2 separate regions of the Homo sapiens genome follow, and region 2 is linked to region 1. Evidence: fine-mapped expression QTL. A gene starts in region 1. The other region holds a variant in brackets. All regions are shown on one strand. Distances are from middle to middle.

Region 1 (5,388 bases):
CTGTGTGCAGCAGAGGGCTGGTCTAAGGTGGAGCCCTCGAAGTGTGGCCTCCAGACCTGGGCCTGGTCGGCTGATGGTTTGTCACTAGTCTGCCACAAAGTAAGTATAGAACTCAAGAGTAAGCACTTAGAAACTTCTGTCTCCTAGACAAAAAGCAATTCTGTCTAAGAGACTGAGAGCAAAATAGACTTCACAGAGGAGGTCAAAAGCTCAAGCTCTGTCTTACACGAGGTTGATGGGGGGTAGAAATTCCCTGAGCAGATGATGTTGGGAATGGTACTCAGAACAGCCACACACAGGGAGACTGTGTGTGAGTTAGAAACATGTGCCCCCTCTGAGTGGATGAATTTGAAAATGTGCCCCCACCCCAAAGGATGTGACCTCAGGCCAGCATCCAGGGCTTGGCCAGCAGTGAGACTGGATTCCAACCCCACCCCAACCATCTCAGCTGGGTGCCTTTGAGCAGTACAAAAAACCCAAACTAGTCAACTGACAGCATTGGACCAGGTATGCAGGTCAGAAAAGTCTGTCTGAAGGTGAGGCTGCAAGGAAAACCAAGGCTCATTCAGCCAGCTGCAAGCCCTCCTTATGCTGGAGCAGAGATAGACAAAGAGAGAAGCAACGGGAGAGGTTGGCTCTGCCCCCACAGGGCTTCCATCCCGAAAGGAGGAATCTAGACATGGTCTGTGTGTGAAGAGCACTGGAAGGAGAGGCCTGATCATCAGTGAGCACTGCTGTGCTAGGCCCTCTTGGAGCCCGAGACAGAAGGAAACGTGTGTGTCCCTATATGCGCTTATCAAAATATCTTCCCATGCTTTGAACCAAGTGGAAAAACGTCATTTAAAAGTCTCCAATCAAAAAATTAAGCCTCAGCCGGGCACGATGGCTCACGCCTATAATCCCAGCACTTTGGGAGGCGGAGGCAGGTGGATCACTTGAGGTCAGAAGTTTGAGACCAGCTGGGTCAATGTGGTGAAACCCCATCTCTACTAAAAATACAAAAAAATTAGTCAGGTGTGGTGGCATACACCTGTAATCCCAGATACTAGGGAGGCTGAGGCAGGAGAATCGCTTAAACCTGGGAGGCAGAGGTTGCAGTGAGCCAAGATCGCACCATTGCATTCAAGCCTGGGCAACAGAGCAAGACTCCATCTAAAAAAAATAAAAATAAGAAATTATATATATATATATATATATATATATATATAAAGCCTCCTTCCCCCCATCTCCCTTTCTTCTCTCTTTTAAAACAAAAATAAAAAGGCCAGGTACAGTGGTTCACACTTGTAATCCCAACACTTTTGGAGGCCAAGGCAGGATGATTTGAGCCCAGGAGTTCAAGACCAGCCTGGGCAACACAGCAAGACCCCCATCTCTACAAAAAAAAAAAAAAATCTAATAAAAATATCCAAGAGGCTGGGCATGGTGGCTCATGCCTGAAATCCCAGCACTTTAGGACGTTAAGACGGAAGGATTGCTTGAATCCAGGAGTTCGAGATCAGCCTGGGCAACATAGCAAGGCACCGTCTCTACTAAAAATCAAAAAAATTAGCTGGCCGTGGTGGCACGTACCTGTGAACCCAGCTACTCAGGCAGCTGAGGCAGGAGGATTGCTTGAGCCCAGGAGGTTAAGACTGCAGTGAGCTGTGATTGCACCGCTGCACTCCAGCCTGGCAACAAAGCAAGACCCTGTCTCAAATATTTTAATAAATTTTTTAGAAAGTACCCAAGAATGGTGGCACACACCCATAGTTCCAACTACTCGGGAGGCTGAGGTGGGAGAATTGATGGGGCTTGAGAGGTTGAGGCAACAGTGGGCCATGATGGTGCCACTGCACTTTAGCCTGGGCAACAGAGCAAGATGCTGTCTCAAAAAAAATTTTTTAAGCCCTCCCTTTCTTTCATCTTTCTTCCCTCTCAAAATACAAACAAACTATATATATGTGTGTGTGTGTGTGTGTATGTACATATATACATATATACATATATGTGTGTATATACACACATATACATATATGTATATATGTATATATTATATATACACATATATGTGTATATGTGTATATATGTATATATTATATATATACACATATATGTGTATATGTGTATATATGTATATATTATATATATACACATATGTGTATGTGTATATATGTATATATTATATATATACACATATATGTGTATGTGTATATATGTATATATTATATATATACACATATATGTGTATGTGTATATATGTATATATGTATATATATACACATGTATGTGTGTATATATGTATATATGTATATATATACACATGTATGTGTGTATATATGTATATATACACATATATGTGTATATATGTATATACACATATATGTGTATATATATATTGCCCAATTTGTTTGTACCCCATTGTCAACCCTCACAGATCCATGGCAGGGACACAGCAGCCACATAAGCCCAGGATCCAAAGCCTGATTGGAAACGGCTCCTCTCTTGCAGTAACGCAAGGTCGTAAAACAAACCAAACAGCCTGCTTTTATAAAATTTTGATATGTTGTTTATCATGGGCTTTTTGGTATTGATTTTGTTTTAAAAAATATTGTGGTAAGGCAGGAGTGACTGAGGCAAGTATTAGAGCAGGAATGAAAGTTTATTAAAAAGTTTTAGAGCAGGAATGAAAGGAAGTAAAGTACACTTGGAAGAGGCCAAGCGGGCGACTTGAGAGATCACCCACTGGACAGTCTGACCTTTGACTTACGGTTTTATACGCTGGCATGCTTCCGGAGTCTTGTGTTCCTTCTCCCCTGACTCTTCCCTTGGTGTAGGCTGTCCACACTTGCGCAGTGGCCTGCCAGCACCTGGGAGGGGAGCATGCGCAGTGTGTGGCCTGCCAGCACCTGGGAGGGGAGCATGCGCAGTGTGTGGCCTGCCAGCACCTGGGAGGGGAGCATGCGCAGTGTGTGGCCTGCCGGCACCTGGGAGGGGAGCATGCGCAGTGTGTGGCCTGCCAGCGCCTGGGAGGGGAGCATGCGCAGTGTGTTTGTACGCATGCAGGAGTTGTACACATGCTCACGTGAGGCGTTCTTCCCTTATCAGTCGAATGTCCCTAGAAGGTCATATACCAGTTAAACTCTGGCATTCTGCCTGTTAGTGCTCATGCTTGAGTACACTCGCCCAACTGCTAAGATCTTACCGGGAAGCTGCTTATCACCCGTTTCAGGTGTTTTCTATCTACTGGGAGCCTGTCTTTCCCTAGCACCGGCTGCGACCAATTATTATTTTAGAGCGACAGACTAACAGCCGCCTGACCATCACCTGATGGTCACCTGAGGTTCCTGCTATTGGAACAGACCCTCTCCTGCCCTGCTCATACCTGACAGCTACCTACTGTAACACACCTAGGCAGATAAAGATGAGATTGTGGAGTTCCAACAGAAGCAGACATTAGGGAATGAGCTGAAAGGTGGAGGTGGAAGTTGTTCAGGGAGATGAGATTGCGCGGGGTACGTAAGAAGAGAGCCTCAGTAGGCTTCGCGGTGGAGCAGGCTGTCCCATCTCCAGCGAAGCTCCCCCCATGCCTCTGTCTCCATATGGAGTTCCACTGTTAACCCTGGGCATCTCCAGCAAGATCCCTACGGGGAGAGGGAACGCATCTGAGTACTGTTTGCAGAACCACACACGACAGCTCTGAATGAATAAGCCAAGACAACACCCCGAGATTCTTCCTGCGGATTTGGGTTCCCAGGCCGGGAAGGAGCTGTTGGAGCCTGCATGGAAGATTAGTGGATCTGCAAAAAGACAATGTGGATGACTGGCCGACGCCTTGTCCCAACCCTGTCCAAGCAGAAGAATCGCCGGGATACTTGCTCTGGATACAAATTCTTGGACCCTGACTCAGACCAACTAAATCAGAACCTCTAGGAGGCCTCCAGACACTGCATTTTTAACAAATTCCCATGTGATTTTTAACGCAGTATAAGTTTAGGAAGCGCTGCTCTGTTGACAAGGAAAGGCTCTGGTCTGGTTTGTAGCAGACTGTCCAGGCTTTCCCAATTTGGTCCAAAAAGGCAGAAAGTGATTGGCTTGAGAGGGCAGAATCAATGGAAAAAGTTTATGAATTCCTGCCCCTGGGAACATTCGTCTTTCACTTTTCATCTTCTTCCCCACCCCCACCTCTTTGGGGTATAGTCTTCCCCATGCCCCAGTTCCACATCTGCTCTGACCTGGGGTTCCCACCCAGCCTCCATCCAGAACACGCTCACCCTGTTTTTGTAAGAGAAAACATTGTCAAAATCAGCTTATGCCTGAAAATTCAAGAAGATAAATTCCTCCTGAGCCCATTTGCTGGCATTCTCATCTGTTTCCAGTTTGGTGTATATCATCTGAAGGGTCCTTGTTCATCCATTTTGGTTCAAGTCAGTTTAGAAAAGAAATGCACTTTACACTGGGCACAGTGACTCACGCCTGTAATCCCAGCACTTTGGGAGGCTGAGGCGGGTGGATCACTTGAGGTCAGGAGTTTGAGACCAGCCTAGCCAACGTGGTGAAACCCCATCTCTACTAAAAATACAAAATTAGCCAGGCATGGTGGTGGGCACCTGAAGCTACTTGAAAAGCTGAGGCGGGAGAATCACTTGAACCCAGGAGGTGGAGGTTGCAGTCAGCCAAGATCATGCCACTGCACCTCAGCCTGCGTAACAGAGTGAAACTTCATCTCAAAAAAAATTTAAAAAAGAAAGAAAAGAAATGCGTTTGGAACACAATGCAATCGATCTTTGGAGAAAATCCATCTAAAATGCTTCTCTTATTGTTTTTGGGGGTTTTTTTTGTTTTGTTTTGCTTTGGGGTGTGCTTTTCTCTTTTCTCATATTTAAAGTTTGTTCTTGTGTGGTTCTCCTAGGAAACAGCACTTTCCCAAGCTTGACAAAGAAAAGCCTCAGGGAAATAAATTGGGATGTGATGAAATGTATTCAGCCCAAGAAGTAAAAAATTCCTTTCCTTTCTTCCAAGCCTCGGGCTTGTAAGTTGCTTTTATCACACTGGATTTAAGTGTTCTTATATGGAAACACACACAAAAATCTGATGGTTGATCAGCTGAAATTCATCAAAATTATTTGAAGACAAATTGGCATTCAAGACACCAGAATAGACAAGAGAAGAACCTGAGGGCTGTGTTCTCTGAGTGAAAGGACATCATTCTAATTAGCCTGTGACAAAAGAAAAAAAAATACCCTTCTCCCAAAAAGTTTATTCATTTTACCCATGTGTACAGGCACTGTCCTAGGCTCAGGGAATACTGAGAAAAACAGAACAAATTTCTGTCCTTCTAAAGCCTATATAATAGAGAAAAACACACAAACCAACAAATAAATCTAAATTCGAAATTTCAGTACCCTG
Region 2 (5,388 bases), 86 kb before region 1:
CATGCCACTGCGCTCCAGCACTCCAGTCTGGGTGACAGAGCAAGACCCTGTCTCAAAAAAAAAAAAAAAAAAAGACACTGTCAGAATGAATAAGGAAAGCAAGACTATACATTATCTACAAGAAAACCATTCTTATTATAAAGACAGATAGATTAAAAATAAAGGAATGGAAAAAGAAAGAAAGAGAGATAAAAATAGAGATGGATAAACCGTTCTAACACTAATCAAAAGAATACTGGGGGAGCCATATTAATTTCAGACAAACAGACTTCAGAATGAGGAAAATCTTCTGGGATTGAGAGGCACTCTGTAATGACAAAGGGGTCAATTCTCCAAGAAGACATAACAATCCCAAATGTGCCCAAGTCCAAGCTGAATGGAGAAACAGACAAATCCACTATTTATAGTTAGAAACTTCAACAACTTTTTGTTAGTAATTGATAAATCAAGCAGGCAGAAAATCAGTAAGGATATAGTTGACCTGAGCAGCACTATCAATCACTTCATCTAATTAACATTATAGATTATTCCATTCGACAACAGCAGAATACACGTTATTCTTAAGCCCACACAGGACATTCATCAAGATAAACCACATTCTGGGCCATAAGATACACCTTAGCAAATTTAGAAGAATAGAAATCATACAAAGGAATTTATCAGACCACAATGGGATTAAAATAGAAATCAGTAACAGAAAGATAGCTAGGAAATCCCCCTAATATTTGGAAATTAAACAACACACTTCTAACTAACACATGGCTCAAAGAATAAGGCTCAAGAGAAACTCAAAGATATTTTTGTTTTTTCATTTGTTTATTTTAAAAGGTATATTTTGATTATTTTAAAGCACTTTCTTATAGCCATTAATCAGAAAATATTATGAGCTGGGTTTGGTGGCTCATGCCTGTTATCCCAGCACTTTGGAAGGCTGAGGCGGGTGGATCACCCGAGGTCAGGAGTTCGAGGCTAGCCTGGCCAACATGGTGAAACCCCGTCTCTACTAAAAATACAAAAAATTAGCCAGGTGTGGTGGCACGTGCCTGTAGTCCCAGCTACTCAGGAGGCTGAGACAGGAGAATCGCTTGAACCCAGGAGGCGAAGGCTGCAGTGAGCCGAGATCGCGCCACTGCACTCCAGCCTGGGTGAGACAGAGTGAGACTCCGTCTCAAAAGAAGAAAGAAAATATTATTACGAATACCCATAATTGCATGTTAAATTGGTAATTTTGTTGTGCATTTTATATATTTAAAATAAAATGCTTTCCAAATAGAGATTCTCCCAATAGGCATTACTATCTGAACTCTTCCCTGGAATTCTCTCTCACCTTTCCCTGCTAACCTAAAACCTGTTCCATTTTCTTGGTTCACAACCTCCGTTGTTTCCACAACTTCGGCCTCACATTGCTCTCTGCATTTTTCTCTAAGCACGGGTAGTCAGCAAATATGTCAGTTTTTAAGTTATGCAGGCTCAACAACTTATCTTTTATGGGAAGTTTATAATATCTTGAACTAAATGAAAATGGAAATACAACTTATCAAAATTTGTGAGGTGCAGCAAAAATAGTGATTAAAGGGAAATTTAGTGCATGTGTTAGAAAAACAGAAAGATGTAAAACCAATAAGCTTCCACCTAAGAAACTAGAGCAAGAAAGACAATGGAGGAACAGAAGAAATAAAAATTACAACAGAAATCAATGAAGTTGAGCACAGAAAAACAATAGAGGGAATCAACAAAACCAAAGACTGGTTCTTTGGAAAGAACAATAAAATTGATAAACCTTTACCCAAACTACCCAAGAAAAAAAGAGGAGACACAAATTACCAATGTCAGAAATAAAAGAAGGGTTATCACTACTGATCACACAGATATTAAAAGGAGAAAAGAAGAATACTATAAACAACTCTATGCCAATAAATTTGACAATTTAGATGAAATGGACCAATTCCTTGAGAGACACAAACTACCAAAATTCACACAAGGATAAATAATCTGAATAGCTTTAGCTCTATTAAATAAGTTGAATCAATAATTAATAGCCTTCCAAGAAAGAAATCTGAAGGCCCAGATGTTTTCACTGGTGAGTTTGCCAACCTATACTGAAAATAATTTAGCAATATCTATCAAAATTTTAAATGTACATATCCTTTGGCTCAGGAAAATTTTCTTCAGGTATATTTATACATGTGGGATATGATATATTTCGGAGGTTATTCACTGCAATATTGTTCCTATTATCAAAGGATTGAAAACAATGTGAACCTCCATTGATAGGCTCCTTGTTAAGTATTTACGGCACATCCATACATGAAAATCCATACCACTGGGAAAAACGTGAATCATTACTCATATATCACTATGGCATGATTTCCAAAATACATTGGCACATGACAACAAAAGAACAATTTACAGAAACCATAAGTATAGTACATTATCATTTGTGTAATGAGAAAGTAGAGAAAAAAAATATATGCATGTATTTGTATGTCTATGCACAAAAAAACTCTGGAAAAATATATATGAAAGTAATATAACAATGCATACTTTTAGGCTGGGCGTGGTGACTCCACCTGTAATCCCAGCACTTTGGGAGGCTGAGGCAGGTGGTTTCTTAAGATCAAGAGTTTGAGACCAGCCTGGCCAACATGGTGAAACCCGTCTCTACTAAAAATACAAAAATTAGCTGGGTATGGTGGCATGCACCTGTAATCCCAGCTACTTGGGAGGCTAAGGCTCAAAAATCACTTGAACCCGGGAGGCGGAGGTTGCAGTGAGCCGAGATCGTGCCACTGCACTCCAGGCCTGAGTGGAGGAGTGTGACCCTGTCTCAAAAAAAAAAAAAAAAAAAAA[T/AT]GCAACAATGCATACTTCTAAGAAAGGGGAAAGGGTAGCTGAGAAACAGAGTCTAGGAGAAAAATTCTTTATTTCATATCCTTTAGTATATTTTGAATTTTTGAAATCTATATTTTACTTAAAAAAATGAAAAATTTTAAAAGTTACCAGTTTCCCTGCTTACCCGTCCCAGAGATTCTGATTTGGGGCCAAGGAATCTGCATGATTAACAGGCTCTCCAAGTGATACAGCAGATGCAAGAAGCACACTGAGAAACACTGACCCACATCATAGGTCCACATGTGAGAGTAATATAAGAGAAGAATCACAAAGAATTGAGGATTTAGGAGGGAAAAAAGAAAATGTAAGGATGAAGAGAGCCAAAGACAACATCCAGGTGCTGATCCCAAGAGTGGGAAACTTACAACATTGTCCTAAATAAGATGGAAGGGGAATTTTCCAAAATAAAGGACAATACACCCATTTAGATGTCATTGGAGACTGGTTCCTCTTACTGTTCTAGATACAATTTTAATGTGGATTATGTCATCAAAAAGAAATAGCTGACATTAGGCTGAGTGTGGTAGCTCACGTCTGTAATCCCAGCACTTTGGGAGGCTCAGGCAGGTCGATCACCTGAGGTCAGGAGTTTGAGACCAGCCTGGACAATATGATGAAACCCTGTCTCTACTAAAAATACAAAAATTAGCCAGGGGTGGTCGTGAGCACCTATAATCCCAGCTACTCAGGAGGCTGAGGCAGGAGAATCACTTGAACCCTGGGGGGCGGAAGCTACTTCACTCCAGCCTGGGCAAAAGAGCAAAACTCTGGCAAAAAAAAGGAAAGAAATGGCTGACATTACAATTGTTTTGGACATGTCAACAAAGTTCCTCTCCTTTGATTCCTCTTTTTCTCTAAAATTGCTGATTATGATCAACCTCTAAGTTTCAAATAAGCATATCTTATACTTTTTTCCTCTTTGTGCTTTCTCTCTCTTTCTCCTCCCAACCTCTTTTAAGCATATCTCCCTTCTTAAAAAGTTGTACTGGTAGTAGGATGGAATGATAGACACTAATGCACCCACAGTCTCTCTAATAACTGGGTTCATGCTGCCGACCTTCCTCCTAGAGTCTTCTCCTATCCCACACCAACCCACCCCATCCCATCCCATTCATTCAACAAATATATATTGAGAGCTTATGTTTCTGACACTATTCTAGGTACTGAAGATAGAGTTGTGATCCAGAAGATCTCTCCTCTTATGACATGTACAGTTTAGTGGGAAGAAAAAGACAAAAAGGAAAAGAAGCATAGAAATGAATTAATTATTTTCAGATAATGATAAGCACTCTAGGGAGAGGAGACACTTTAGGTTGGGGAGTCGAGGAAGCTCTCTCTGAAAAGGGGATTTGAGACCCGAATGATGAAAAGAAGCCATTCAAGTCAATTTCTGGGAGAAGAAATTCTAAGCAAAGAAACAGTGAATACCTACACCCTGATCTAGAACATACTTGTATTCTTAAGGAATACCAAGGAGATCAATGCAGCTACGGTATAGGAAACTAGGAGAAGGATACTTAATATATTAGGTTAAAGAAGTAGGCTGTGTGTATGTGTGTGTGTGTCACAGCTTATCTCTACACCATTTGATAGTAGGTCCGCTTATCCCCTTAATACCCCTGTGTGTATTTCTTAAGAACAAGGATATTCTCTTACACAACCACAATATAGTTATCAATGTCAGGAACTTTAATATTGATATAATACTTTTATCTAATCTACAGTCTGTATGCTAACTTAATCAATTTAATTCTACTAATGTTCTTTAGAGTATTTTTTCTTGGCACAGGGTCCAGCCCATAATCACAGATGACATTTACTTGTAGTGTCTCTCTAGTCTCGTTTAATTTGAATCAATTCTTTAGCCTTTTCTTGTCTTTTAAGACATTGACATTTTAAAAGAATATAGATTAGTAATTTTATGATATTGAAATAGTTGCTTCAATTTGGATTTTTCATCATTCTTCTCCTTTTTTAGGTTAAGATTCACTTACAGAGCACTTACTATGTGCCAGGCCCTGTTCTAAGTGCTTTGCAATTATTAATCCTCATAACAAGCCTCTGAGGTACACATTATCATTATTTCCATTTTTCAGATGACAGCCCTGAGGCAAAGAGAGAGTAAATAAGTCGCCCAAGGTCACCCGACTTGTAAGCAGGGATTTGAACCGAGGCAGCCTGGTTCTGGAGCCCTTGCCTGTAACCTTCTTCCTTCTCAGTAAACTCCAGCCACACTGGCCTCCTTGCTTTCTTCAACATGCCAGGTATTCTCCCACCTCAGGGCCTTTGCACGTGCCTTTCCGACTGACTTGAAAACTTCTCCCCTAGCTATCTTCTCAGTGATGCCCTCACTTTTTGGGGAGTCTCTGTTGAAATGTCACCACCCTATCTAAAGTGGCCCACACTGACATACGTTGGCCTTCAACACACACCACCTGACCTATTACATATTTATGAATGTGTTTATTTACTGCCTGTCTCCCACGCCGAAATGTAAAC

Direction of the effects. Alleles are on the strand shown, and positions count from the first base shown. SD is a standard deviation of normalised expression in the study named.
In carriers of allele T in region 2, the expression in monocytes after LPS of the gene that starts at base 2,827 in region 1 tends to be lower than with AT alone (moderate effect, 0.68 SD a copy in Quach 2016).

The links. PIP is the estimated chance that this variant, and not a neighbour inherited with it, causes the effect.
Region 2: its variant is the best candidate, but not a certain one, in a credible set for the expression of GPRC5D-AS1 in monocytes after LPS (Quach 2016, PIP 0.59).

The regions. Positions count from the first base shown.
Region 1 is chr12:12,925,165-12,930,552 of GRCh38, reverse strand. It overlaps GPRC5D-AS1 (GPRC5D and HEBP1 antisense RNA 1), which reads right to left and starts at 2,827. Exons shown (of 3, transcript NR_149067.1): 1 at 2,750-2,827.
Region 2 is chr12:13,011,078-13,016,465 of GRCh38, reverse strand. All of the region lies in intron 2 of GPRC5D-AS1 (GPRC5D and HEBP1 antisense RNA 1), which reads right to left. Among named protein-coding and RNA genes, the nearest start is that of HEBP1, 14 kb to the right of the region's middle. The variant T/AT (reference allele first, on the strand shown) is at 2,851.